Regions from separate parts of the Homo sapiens genome. Here region 2 is linked to region 1. The links come from fine-mapping of genetic effects on gene expression. A gene starts in region 1. The other region holds a variant in brackets. All regions are shown on one strand. Distances are from middle to middle.

What was found.
Region 2: its variant is fine-mapped to the expression of ZNF503-AS2 in whole blood (TOPMed, PIP above 0.99).

The regions. Positions count from the first base shown.
Region 1 is chr10:75,398,994-75,404,363 of GRCh38, forward strand. It overlaps ZNF503-AS2 (ZNF503 antisense RNA 2), which reads left to right and starts at 2,535. Exons shown (of 2, transcript NR_024421.1): 1 at 2,535-3,268. It overlaps ZNF503 (zinc finger protein 503), which reads right to left and starts at 2,771. Exons shown (of 2, transcript NM_032772.6): 1 at 2,112-2,771; 2 at 1-1,381. The coding sequence starts at 2,426. RefSeq lists an enhancer at 1,773-2,273.
Region 2 is chr10:75,435,093-75,440,462 of GRCh38, forward strand. LRMDA (leucine rich melanocyte differentiation associated) reads left to right here. Exons shown (of 7, transcript NM_001305581.2): 2 at 3,302-3,402. Among named protein-coding and RNA genes, the nearest start is that of LRMDA, 6.2 kb to the left of the region's middle. The variant C/T (reference allele first, on the strand shown) is at 2,320.

The DNA.
Region 1 (5,370 bases):
CGGCAGCGCTGGCCAGAGACGACGAGCTGGGGTAGCCCGACAGCAGTTTGTCTGTCCCGGGAAATGCCGTATGGGTCCGCAAGTGGCTCAGCAGCTCTTCGGACGTGGCGAAGCGCTTGTCGCACGGCCCGTTGGCCGACACCCAGTTGCAGATGTGGGGGAGTGGGTCGTTAGGGAGCATAAAGCCGTAGGGGTAGAGGGGGTGGCCGGCCAGGGAGGGCGGTGTGGCGCCAGCAGCCGCGGCGGCCGTTAGCGAGGAGTGCACACCGTGCAGCGGGTGCGTGGGGTACACCAGCGGGTATCCGGACTTCAGCGCCGCAGCCGCAGCAGCCGGATCATGTGCGCAAGAAGCGCTGGCGGCCGCCGCCCCTGCCAGGTGGCTAGCGCAGTGGTAGCTGAGGCAGTAAGGGTCCCGGCACAAACTGGCTGTCATCACGGACGGCGGAGACGCTCCGGCCAAAGGGCTGGAGCCGGCCGGCTTACTGCAGCCCAGAGACCCGGCCGCGGCCGCCGCCAGCTGCGCCCCCACCAGGCTGCCCGGCTTGGTGGGGTCAAGTGCCACGCCGTGTGGCAGGAACTGGGGCGGGTAGCCGGCGTAGGCCCCGGCCAGGCTGCCTGGGTAGGTCATACCCGCGGGAGGCAGAGGGAACACTGTCTGGCCCGGCTTGTAGGGTGACACGGGAGCCACCAGCCCAGAGCCCAACACTGAGGAGGAGGTGGGCGCGCTGGGGCCGGAGCCGGAGCTGGAGCCCGATGAACCGCCGCAGTCCGAGCCCAGAGCCTTGCCTCCCGGGCCCCCATCCGGATGCTGGTTCACATCCACATTAATCCCGCCGCCGCAGCTAATCCGGCCGTGTGCCAGCCCCGTGGGTCCCCCTTCGGCCGAGGCGCCCCCGGTGCCCTTGCCACCGCCGCCCACGTCGGTGTCTTTCTTGTCGTCCTTGCCCTCCGGGGCACCCCCGGCCGAGGACAGCATACCTCCCGGCGAGCAGGCCGAGGCGCTGGAGCTCGGGCTGCCTGTCCTGGGCGTGAATGGCTGGCAGGTGGCGCTCGGTACCCGGAATCCCGACTTCTCCGACGAAACACCCCCGCCGCCGCCCCCGCCACCGCCACCGCCTCCACCGCCGCCTCCCGGCTCCTTCTTATCCGAGCCGGGTTTGGAGTACGGCTTGAAACTCGACTTGTCCTCCACGCCGATGTCGCTCAGCTTCAGGGGGCCCGATTTGGTGTCCTTGTCGCCCGCAGCACCGCCGCCGGCACCGCCCGCGCCGCCCCCGTTGGAGGCAACCGAGGAGAGTTTGGAGGAGGGCGAGGGGTCGGGCTTCCCGATCTGCGAACATGTTTGCGCCAACAGCGCCAGCGGGCTCTTCTTGGCATCGAGCTGCGGGGTCAGACGATGGGGGGGGAGCGTCACACAGAGAAAGAAGTGGAAACCCTTTAGAATCCTGGCTTCTGGGGTTCAAATGCCTCTCCGCAACAGCCCACGAAGATCCTCCCAGCCCCAAGGCGCAATTCTAGGCGGCACCCCCTCTTCAACACCCACTCACAAACATTCTCGCCGTTGGGAAAGGCAGCAGATTGCTCCCCCCGCCCAACCACCACCCCCAGCAGCATCTTTCCTGCCCTCTCTGAGCGCTAACTAGATTTTTAAAGAGCAAAATGTTTTGGTTTTCGGTTCCTAGACCCAGAACTGTACCCCCTCCCCACAAACACTCCTTAATTCTTCAGAGTAAGGGCTCGGGCGGCTGGCGCCTCAGAGGCTGTGTGCACACACTGGCTTCTGCGGATACGAAGGACGGCGACTTTGGAACCGTATTTCAGACCTCCGCCTGCCTTCGGTGCCGAGTGAAGGGGCCTGGGTCGGGGTAGGGGCTTTCATATCGAAAGGAGAAACAAGTATTGGCAGCCTTGCTCCCTAGCATGCACGCCCCATTCCACTTCCTCCCCCTTTTCCGCCCTAGTTTTGAGGTACGGAAGCAGTAGCCTCTTCCCCCATTCGGGAGCTGAATCACTCCGACCCCCCCACCTCCGCCCAGATCCCGAGAAAAAGAAAGCCCTAGGGTGGCAGCCAGGGTAGTGGTCCCAGTGCGATCCAGAGAGAGGGTCCTTACCTCGATGGGGCTGACCGGCGTGGAAGGCAGGGGCTGCAGGTACTCGGGGTGCAAAATGTGGCCAGTTCGTGCCGTCAGCATCTTCAGCACCTTGATTGGCAGGCGGTTGGCCTGGCGCAGGGGGTCAGAGGGGGGCACGGCGTGCACAAAAGGCTTGGTGCTGCCGGCCGGGGACGAGCCTGGGCCGGGGCCGGAGCTATTTCCAGAGAGCGCGCTGGTCCAGGCAGGGTCTGCACCGCCGCCTCCGCCTCCGCCGCCGCCGCCGCCGCTGTGCTTACTGCTTCTTAGGGCAGAAAGCGAGGGCGCTGTGCTCATGACCCACCCGCGCGCATGGGAGCAGCGGGGGGGAGGGCTCCGGGAGGCGCGGGGCGGGCTCGGGGCTGCGCGCTCGCCCCGGGAGCAGGAGCAGCGGGAGGAGGAGGAGCTGGCGCGGCGGCCACGGGCGCCCAGCGCGCCTTCTCGGCGCCTGGAGCCAGACGCGAGTAATCCTGGGTGGCCCGCAGCGGAGCCGTGGCCGGGCTAGAGGAGCCGGCTGGACTGCGGGAGTGCCGGGCGGCTCGCGGTGTCCGCCTCGGGCTGCTCCCCTGCGCTGCGTTCTCGCGGCCCCGCGCCGGCGCTGCGCTCTGCGATGCGAGCCGCTGCGTGTCCAGCCGGGGCTCTGGCGAGGAAACTCACTTCAAAAGCAGCTGCACCAAGGGGGAGATTAAAGCCTTTGCCGCCTTCCAATCAAATGGGAGCCCGAGGTGATTGGAGGGTCAAGGGGATGTGACGCGTCCCGCGCCGCCGCCGCCGCCGCTGCCAGGACTCTCAGTGCCGGTTTTAATGGGCAGCTCCCTCTTCGCCGCCCCCCTGTGTGTCCCCTCCCTCGATTTCGCTGGGAGGACGAGATGGACATTTATTCTACGTTTGCCATCCGCCGCCTCCCTCTTTTTTCCTCCTCGTCGTTCTTCCTTTCCCCAGCTCGAAAATAAACTGAAACCTTCTTTTGAAGGGGGGTGCGCGTGAGGAACAGACTGCGGGGGGTGTCCAGAAGGAGCACCGGTGGGAGTGTGGACACCGGCCGGACTGTCAACTCCAGGGGCGAAGGGAACCTGCACACCCAGTGTTTTTTCCTTCGCAGTAATCGAGATCCCGCGCGGCGCAGCGCAGCCACCAGGGTAAGAAGGCAAGGTGGGGAGCCGGAGCTGGAAGAAGCCCGCCCGCCCGCTCTAATTTCCTCAGATTCCGCGGCGGAGAAACCAGAAGCTAGATGGGCAGTCGCAGCGGCGGCGGCTCAACACCGCGAGGAGCGCTGGGCTCTCCGCCCTTCCCGGCCACGTGACGCCCGGGGACGCGTAGATTGGGGCAGCAGCGGGGGTCACATGTTTCCTCTGTTTCACCCTCAGTCTGTCCCCCAACCCCCCATTCTTACTCTCCCACCCTGTTTTCCTCCCTCCCCCCCTTCTTTGGGCATCTCCACCCCTCCATCAATTGTCAATGTTCCTCGACCGCAATCAATCAGTTATTTGTCAGCTCTTGTCAATCCTCCCGTGATTTATGTCAGCTTTTGTTGCTGATTACAAGGCGGGTGCGACTTGAAGGGAAAAAGAGAGAGGGAGAGAGAGACGGAGAGGAAGGAGGAGATTGAGAGGGAACTGGAGGAGGGGAAAAGAGGAGCGGCCTCCTGGGATGGGGGTGGGGTGGGGGCTCTAAGAAAAAGAATGAAAGAGGCGCACGGTGTCAGGAAAATGAATAGCGAGAGTAAAGTGCGCAGGTGCGCCCAGGGCGCCGAGAGGGGCGCGCAGGCCTGGAGTGTGCGCCTGCCCTCTCGGTGTCGGAGAGACGCCCTTCCACCTCTGGGAGCCTCGGTCTGTTGGGGTCGCGGAGTTCGGGCGCGGCTCCGGGTACCCGAGACCAGCGGCGGCAACTTCTAACACGGGAGATTTCCCGCCACCCCACCCCGCCGCCGCGAGTCCTCGCGGGGCGTGTTGCGTGCGGAGGTCAGGCTGCCACCCTCTGTAGTTCCCTAACCCCAAACTCGGAGACTTCTAAGAGCCACACCACCAAGGAACTTCTAGTCCTGGAGGTCAATGGTGGGGCAAACCTCGCCTCAATTCTTTGACCCCCTCGGGTCGTAAGCAGGGCTAAGAGGCTGCGAAGAAGAGGCCTGGCCATGGGTGTATGGGGGAAGAAACATCTCAGGCTCACTCATGCCCCCTCCCCGACCTTCTCCCACCTGCCGCCATCCCCGCAGGCTGGGGAGCCAGGGTAACTCGGGGCTGCTCTCTCGAATTTATTGGAACGCCGAGTCGGAATGAGCTGCGCTAGGAGAGCCGAGGGAAGGAGCGAGAGAGGGAGGGGGCGGCTGCCTGTGGGAACGCGGGTTCTTCCAGGGAAGCGGAGCGGGACTGCCGCGTTCCCCTCGATTTGCACCGTCACTCGGGTTGTTTGGGAAGAAAAGGGGAGGCGCTGTGCGTGCCACCGGGTACCTGGACCTGGATGCCCAGTGTGTATGCATGCCTGTGGCGCTGCGTGAGTTATCGGGGCTCTGATAGCGTCCGGAGCGGGTTCGAGGGTCTCCTCCAGGAACTCGCAGAAATTAGAGGGGGTGGGGAGGAGGACACACCCCCTTCCTCGGAACGACTTAGAAGACTTTGAATCTCCCCTCCTCCGCTTTTCCGCCCCGGCTCTTCTTTTGTTGTCAAGTCCTTTTGATAAATGGTGGGGCTGGGAGCTCTGGGAGTCGGGAGCCAGTCTGTGCCCGCGTGGGGGGCGGGGGCCGAGCCTGGAGACCCGGTTTCGACCGGCGCGCACCTGGGGCTGAGCCGGGTGCGCGCGGGGGTCGGGTCTGGAACTGCCCTTGGTATGCTCGCCCTCTCCTCTTGGCCCATCTCACTCCCCTCCCCCACCTGACTCCCCTCCCCGGCTTCTTTCTCTGTCTCCCACTCCGCACGGGTACCGAGAACTTTCCGGGGTGAGTTTTAGAATTTGCTCCTAGGCATTCTTTTTCTGCGTTTGGATTTTATCCCTTGATTCTTTGGGTTGGTAAACTTTATGAAATGGTAACTTGACTGAAGCTCATTTGGAGAGAAGAGGGGAGTGAGGCGGTGTGTGCTTGGGGCTGGTGTTTGTCAGTGTGAGCGTGTAAGAGCACACCTGCATTCAAGGGGGTTTGTAGTGTCCGTGCGACATCTGAGGGAGGTGAGTCGGCGAGCGGGTGGCGAGGCCCCACGCTGAGGGAGGCGGTTGTCTGGTCTCCGGGGAGCAAGTCCCAGGTGCG
Region 2 (5,370 bases), 36 kb after region 1:
TAGGGTACAAATTATAGAAAATAGAGAAATTATAAGTTTGAATCTTTGTTCCTCAATGCAGTCTAAGTCAAGGTAATTGACTAAATGCAATGGTGTTCTGGATATGCTCTTGCTTCTGTGCCATTTAAGATCTATTAATCTCTGTATCCCGTCTCCCTTTTGCTGAAGAAGCAAACTATTTTTGGTTTGGCTCTTCTGGCCTTGAATCTTACATTAGGTGGTCCTGTGCTCTAAGAAGCTTCCTGACATCCTGAGAGGTAATGTCTTCCCTCAGAAGCACTTCTTAAGTCTTTTTTCTAGTTTCAAGCATTGCTTGCAATGTCTGGCAGTGGCTGCTTGCTGCTTTTAAGCCTTTTCCAGCTGATTTGAGCCCTTCAGCCTGGTCGGCTTAACTCACATCTCTAAAAGCTTCTACTTTACCACAGGAGTTATCTAAGCATGCAGATTACTTATCGAGTTGGTTCTCATGCTAAACTTTTGAGACTTGGTCTTCACATTTGAGAACAGTGAGAACAACTTGTATTTTTCTTAGTCTTCCTGGGATGTTGTATAGTTAAGACCATGTACTGAAACAGGCTGCTGACAGTCTCATCAGATGTTGTGAGTGATCCAAATGCTTTATGATAGCTCTCCTTGGTGCTCCTGTTTCCTTTGAATGGAATTCCTACAGAAGAAAAAGGGAAGCAAATATCCCTCTCTTTTCCCAGGCTCTAACACTCTTCTTGGGTCCTCAGTGTAGCACCGTGGGAGAAGTTCTTGCCCTTTCAGCTCAGAAGACTCATTTTGAAGCCAAAACATGATGATAGATGCACCACTGGCATTTGCTGATCAAGAAAACTCATGTCTGCCTGGTATGGTGGCTTGTATCTGCAATTCCAGCTATTTTAGGAGGCTGAGGCGAGGGGATTGTTTGAGTTCAGAGTTTGAGATCAGCCTGAGCAACACAGTGAAACCCCATCTCTTTAAAAAAAAAAAAAAAAAAGAGAGAGAGAAATCTCACACCCACACATGGATTTGTAAGCACTCCATGGCCCCCAAGTTGGAAGTCCTTATTTATGGCATAGGACTTGATCTGGGCTCTATCACTAAGAAGCTGTATTGTGCTGGGCAGGGCTCTGGAGTCTTAGTTTCCTTGTATAAAACATCAGAAGTTTTGACAAACTGGGTGTCTATTAGATTTAGTCCTTGGCCATTCTAAGAGGAAAGAGCCCAGTTTCTGCATCTAAAACTCAACGTCTCTGCTATATATATCACAGAGGTCTTGACTGATAATATGTGCAAGACAGTAGTGCAGGCTGGGGTGAATGGGATGGATTTTCTGGTGAGCGCCATGGACCTGGGGTTCATTGTGAACGTACAATACAGAAGAAGCTGCTGAATTTTTTTTTTTTTTTGAGACAAGTCTGGCTCTGTCGCCCAGGCTGGAGTGCAGTGGTGCAATCTCGGCTCACTGCAAGCTCCGCCTCCAGGGTTCACACCATTCTCCTACCCTAGCCTCCTGAGTAGCTGGGACTACAGGCACTCCCCACCATGCCCGGCTAATATTTTTTGTATTTTTAGTAGAGATGGGGTTTCACCATGTTAGTCAGGATGGTGTCGATCCCCTGACCTCATGATCCTCCCACCTCGGCTTCCCAAAGTGCTGGGACTACAGGCATGAGCCACCGCGCCTGGCCAAGAAGCTGCTGACTGAGCAGAGATCCTGAGGGAAATCGAAGTCCCCAGATAGAATAGGGCCTTATAGCCACAGTCTCTCTTTGGCATATGATTTCTGTCTCAGCTTGGAAGCAGAACTTAATTTATTACACAAGGAACTGTGAAGAAAGATGGACCCCAGGTAGAAAGAGGAGAGATTGCTAGATTGAACTTAGAGTCCTTTATTTTTTAGCCTATATCTTCTTGAGTCAAAATTACTTTATTGGAGTCAGCTATTTTTCTATCCTTTCTCCTTATTTTCTCTCCTCCTAGAATGAAGTTACTGAAGGAGAGTGGATATAGGATATTGCATTGTCAGCAGTTTGTCCTCATTGGATAGGAGAAGGTTGAGAGATGACTGGAGATGTTGAGGGTGTCAGGGTTCAGTGCAGCTTGTATTAGGTTGCACCATGTAAAAGAGCTATTTTGTGGTTCTAAAATGGTTGGATATTGGTAGTTCACATAGTTGAACCTAATATCTGAGGATGTAAGATGGCCACCATAGTCTTGTTTCCCATGAGGAAACACCCTCCTGGGGAGTCTCTCTCTCTCTCATTCTAAGAGATCTTTGTCTATATGTGTGGAAGAATGTGATTTGTAGGGAAACCAGAAGAAGGTTATAGC[C/T]GTGTCTTGGGCTTGAATTTCAAGCTGGGGGTTGAGCATGTTGTATTTTAGGGAAACAGCATGCATTGTGGCCCACTGGTCAACTCGGCCTCATGGGTTTATTTTATGGTTTGAGGATTAGTTGCCAATCTGCCCACAGAGTGCTGTCTGTAAAAATGGGTTCCAAAAACTGGGTGATTAGGGTAGTGAGAAAGTCCACTGACCTTCTCACAGGTTCTGGAATCAGTTCAGATTCAGTTCAGTTCAGCTTTTTAATATTTGGGCACATACAGGTACTTAATAATAAATAATCTGTAATAAATAGAAGAATGCCCAAAGAAACAGCTTTGTGCACAGAGTGGGATTGACTGCCAAAGGGCCTCTGGAGGAGGGACATTCAGGAGCCCCGGACACACATTGTTGCCCTGTTGCCTTCAAATCAGCTTTGTTTGGGTGTGGAGGGCATTTTGTACACAGTGGCAACTGGATGGGATTTGTGGTCTGGGGAGGTTTTCTTTTCCAACCCTATTTGTTCCAGCACCCTGAAGGTTGGATGCTGGTAAGTGCATCTGCTGTGTCTTTTATGAGGTAATGTGCATACCAGGGTACTGGAGGGCAGTGGAGGAGAGGGAGAAGAAGGGGCAGAGGAGCAACTGTTGCAAAAGCCCCTGAGTGAGAGGGCGATTGTTGCGGTTATATCAATGTGCCCTGATATTCAGGTTTCTTTTGGACACCTGAATCTGGCCAATTTTAGTCCAATTTCCATTGTCCTGGGATTAGTCTTCATCATGTTAACTGCACCAGGAAAGGGGAGCTGTTGGTGGAGTCCTTGGAGCCCCCAAAGCTGATTTGATCAGGGAAACAGTCACAAGTGTGGCCTTTTTGTGTGTGAGAAACATGTGTTTCAAGTTGCAGAAGCAATCATTGGATCAGTAATTTCAGGGTTGGGAGCAGCTGGGTGATTTCCATTTGCCACATTGTTTCTGTTCCATTTAATTTCCAGGTGTCCTACATAGGCCAGGACTGCAGAGAAATTCCAGAGCACCTTGGCAGGGACTGTGGACATTTCGCAAAGAGGCTTGATCTGAGCTTTAACCTTCTGAGGTATGTAACCTTCACAAGATGTAGGCCAGGCCTGGGAGGCCCAGTCCTCCTGGGTACTTTAGGGCCAAGCAGATAAAAGTCAAATGTTCCAACTCCACATGGGTTGTCCTTTTATTCAGCAGAAGGCTCTGAGATGCGTGGAATCACACCCCAAAGGTTTCACTGTGTCCGGTGATTCCTTGGCTGCCTTTTTTTGTGCTGCTGAAGAGGCAGGCAGCATATTGAGCCTCATCCATTTCACACGAGTTCCTATGAGAGAGCCGTCATATTTTCACTGTGTTCTTTTCATTTCTCACGGATACCTGTGCAGACAGGTCAGAATACTCTTGGGGAAGGAATGAGATGAAGCCTGCAAGAGTGTTTTGGGGTGTCTAGGTGTGCTTTCTTAGGATAAACACATGTCCCAAAACATTCGTCGAGTCACAGGTAGGGTGTGTGTATGTGTGTGTTCTCTTTCTTTTGTCTTTTTATGAATGGGAGCTTTAAATATTTGTGATGATAATTTCTCCCGGATGGTGTTTCAAAGCAATTTAAATACTGCTGGTGTGGAGTGGGTGGGAGGAAAACTCTCTGACAACTGTTCCAGTCTTGGCAAAGGTAAGTGTGATCTTGTATATTATTCCAGTGGAGAATACAGGCAGTTATTTCCTTTCTCCCTAAAAGGTTATGCCTTGCGCCTGGTTTGGGGGCTTGGAGGAAAGAAGTAAGAGGTACTTGGAAAGCAGGTGTCAGTGGGATAAGAGCAGGGGTCAGGCAGGACGATTGCTTTTCCTCCTAACAAGCTGGTGCCACCCAGGGCTTTTTCCTCCATGCCCTCCTTGAGAGCTGTGCTGCCCTCTGAGTGGGACAGACTGTCCTGGGGTCAAAGGAGAGATAAGAACCTGAATTCCATTCCAGGGCCCAAGCACTTTCCTGCTTCTAGGCCTTGGAGTCTTCATTTCCCACAGCTGAGTCAGGATACTTGGGAATTAGGAATTTGTAATTGGAAAATGGAACACAACTCTGGAAAATGAACACAACTCAGGGTAATAAGGCACGAGAGGTGGAAGAGGATTTGTTTGAGGTCAGCCAGCGGAACTCCTTGGATGCTGCTCGGGAGCACATGGCCACACAGAGCTGTGTTGTTTCCAGGAAAGGGGCACCCTGAGGGTTGTAGTGGATGGAGAGTGGCCGCTGTCTGTGTATTCTTCCTTACTCCCAAAGGGTTTGTGTGCATCTGGGGAGAGGTGGAAACTGACAAGTTGTAAAGTAGTACACAGGGATGAGAGGAAGCCAAATAAATACATGCTGACTCTAGAGAAATGAAGGATGTGTTTTTTGTTCCAGTACCTAAGGAGAGGACCGAGTGCGTGGCCTTGAGTGCTCCAGCTTCCCAGAGCAGACTTAGGCAAAAGGCTTCCTTTCCTGGGCATGGAAGGAGTTCCTCCTGTGTGACCAGCCCCCAGGGGCTCAGGGCACTGGAGCTTGGGTTGTGGTTGCCCTGAGTAGTTAGTGGGAGCCGGATGTGGATTTGAGGAGGCTGGACCCCGTGAGGGAGCATCAGTGCATGTGGATCATGGGACTGGGCTATTGGGTTTGAGGAAACACAGCCATCTTTGTGATGTCCAGGGGCCCTGCCTTTCTTTGGGAGAGGAGGTACTGGACCTTGGGAGGTGTGTATGTGTGGCAAGAAGGGGCTGTTGGCTCTGAGGGGCTGGATCTATATGGATTTATTGTAGGAAATGACACATACTAGATGCAGGAAAATTTCGTAAGGGGGTGGCTGAAAAGTGGATTCAGAGGGAGAGCACTGAAGATTTGTATTTTCCTTTGTTGAGAGGAGAGACATTTCTGTAGTGTTGAGTTTGAGTTGGTTTCACATCTGGTCAGGAGCCTGTTCTTGTCCGTGTTGTGGTCAGTGTGTGAACTCCACACTGGACAGTAGCTGAGTTTGGGCAGGGATGAGGAGTGGAGGGGTGAGGTCTAAGG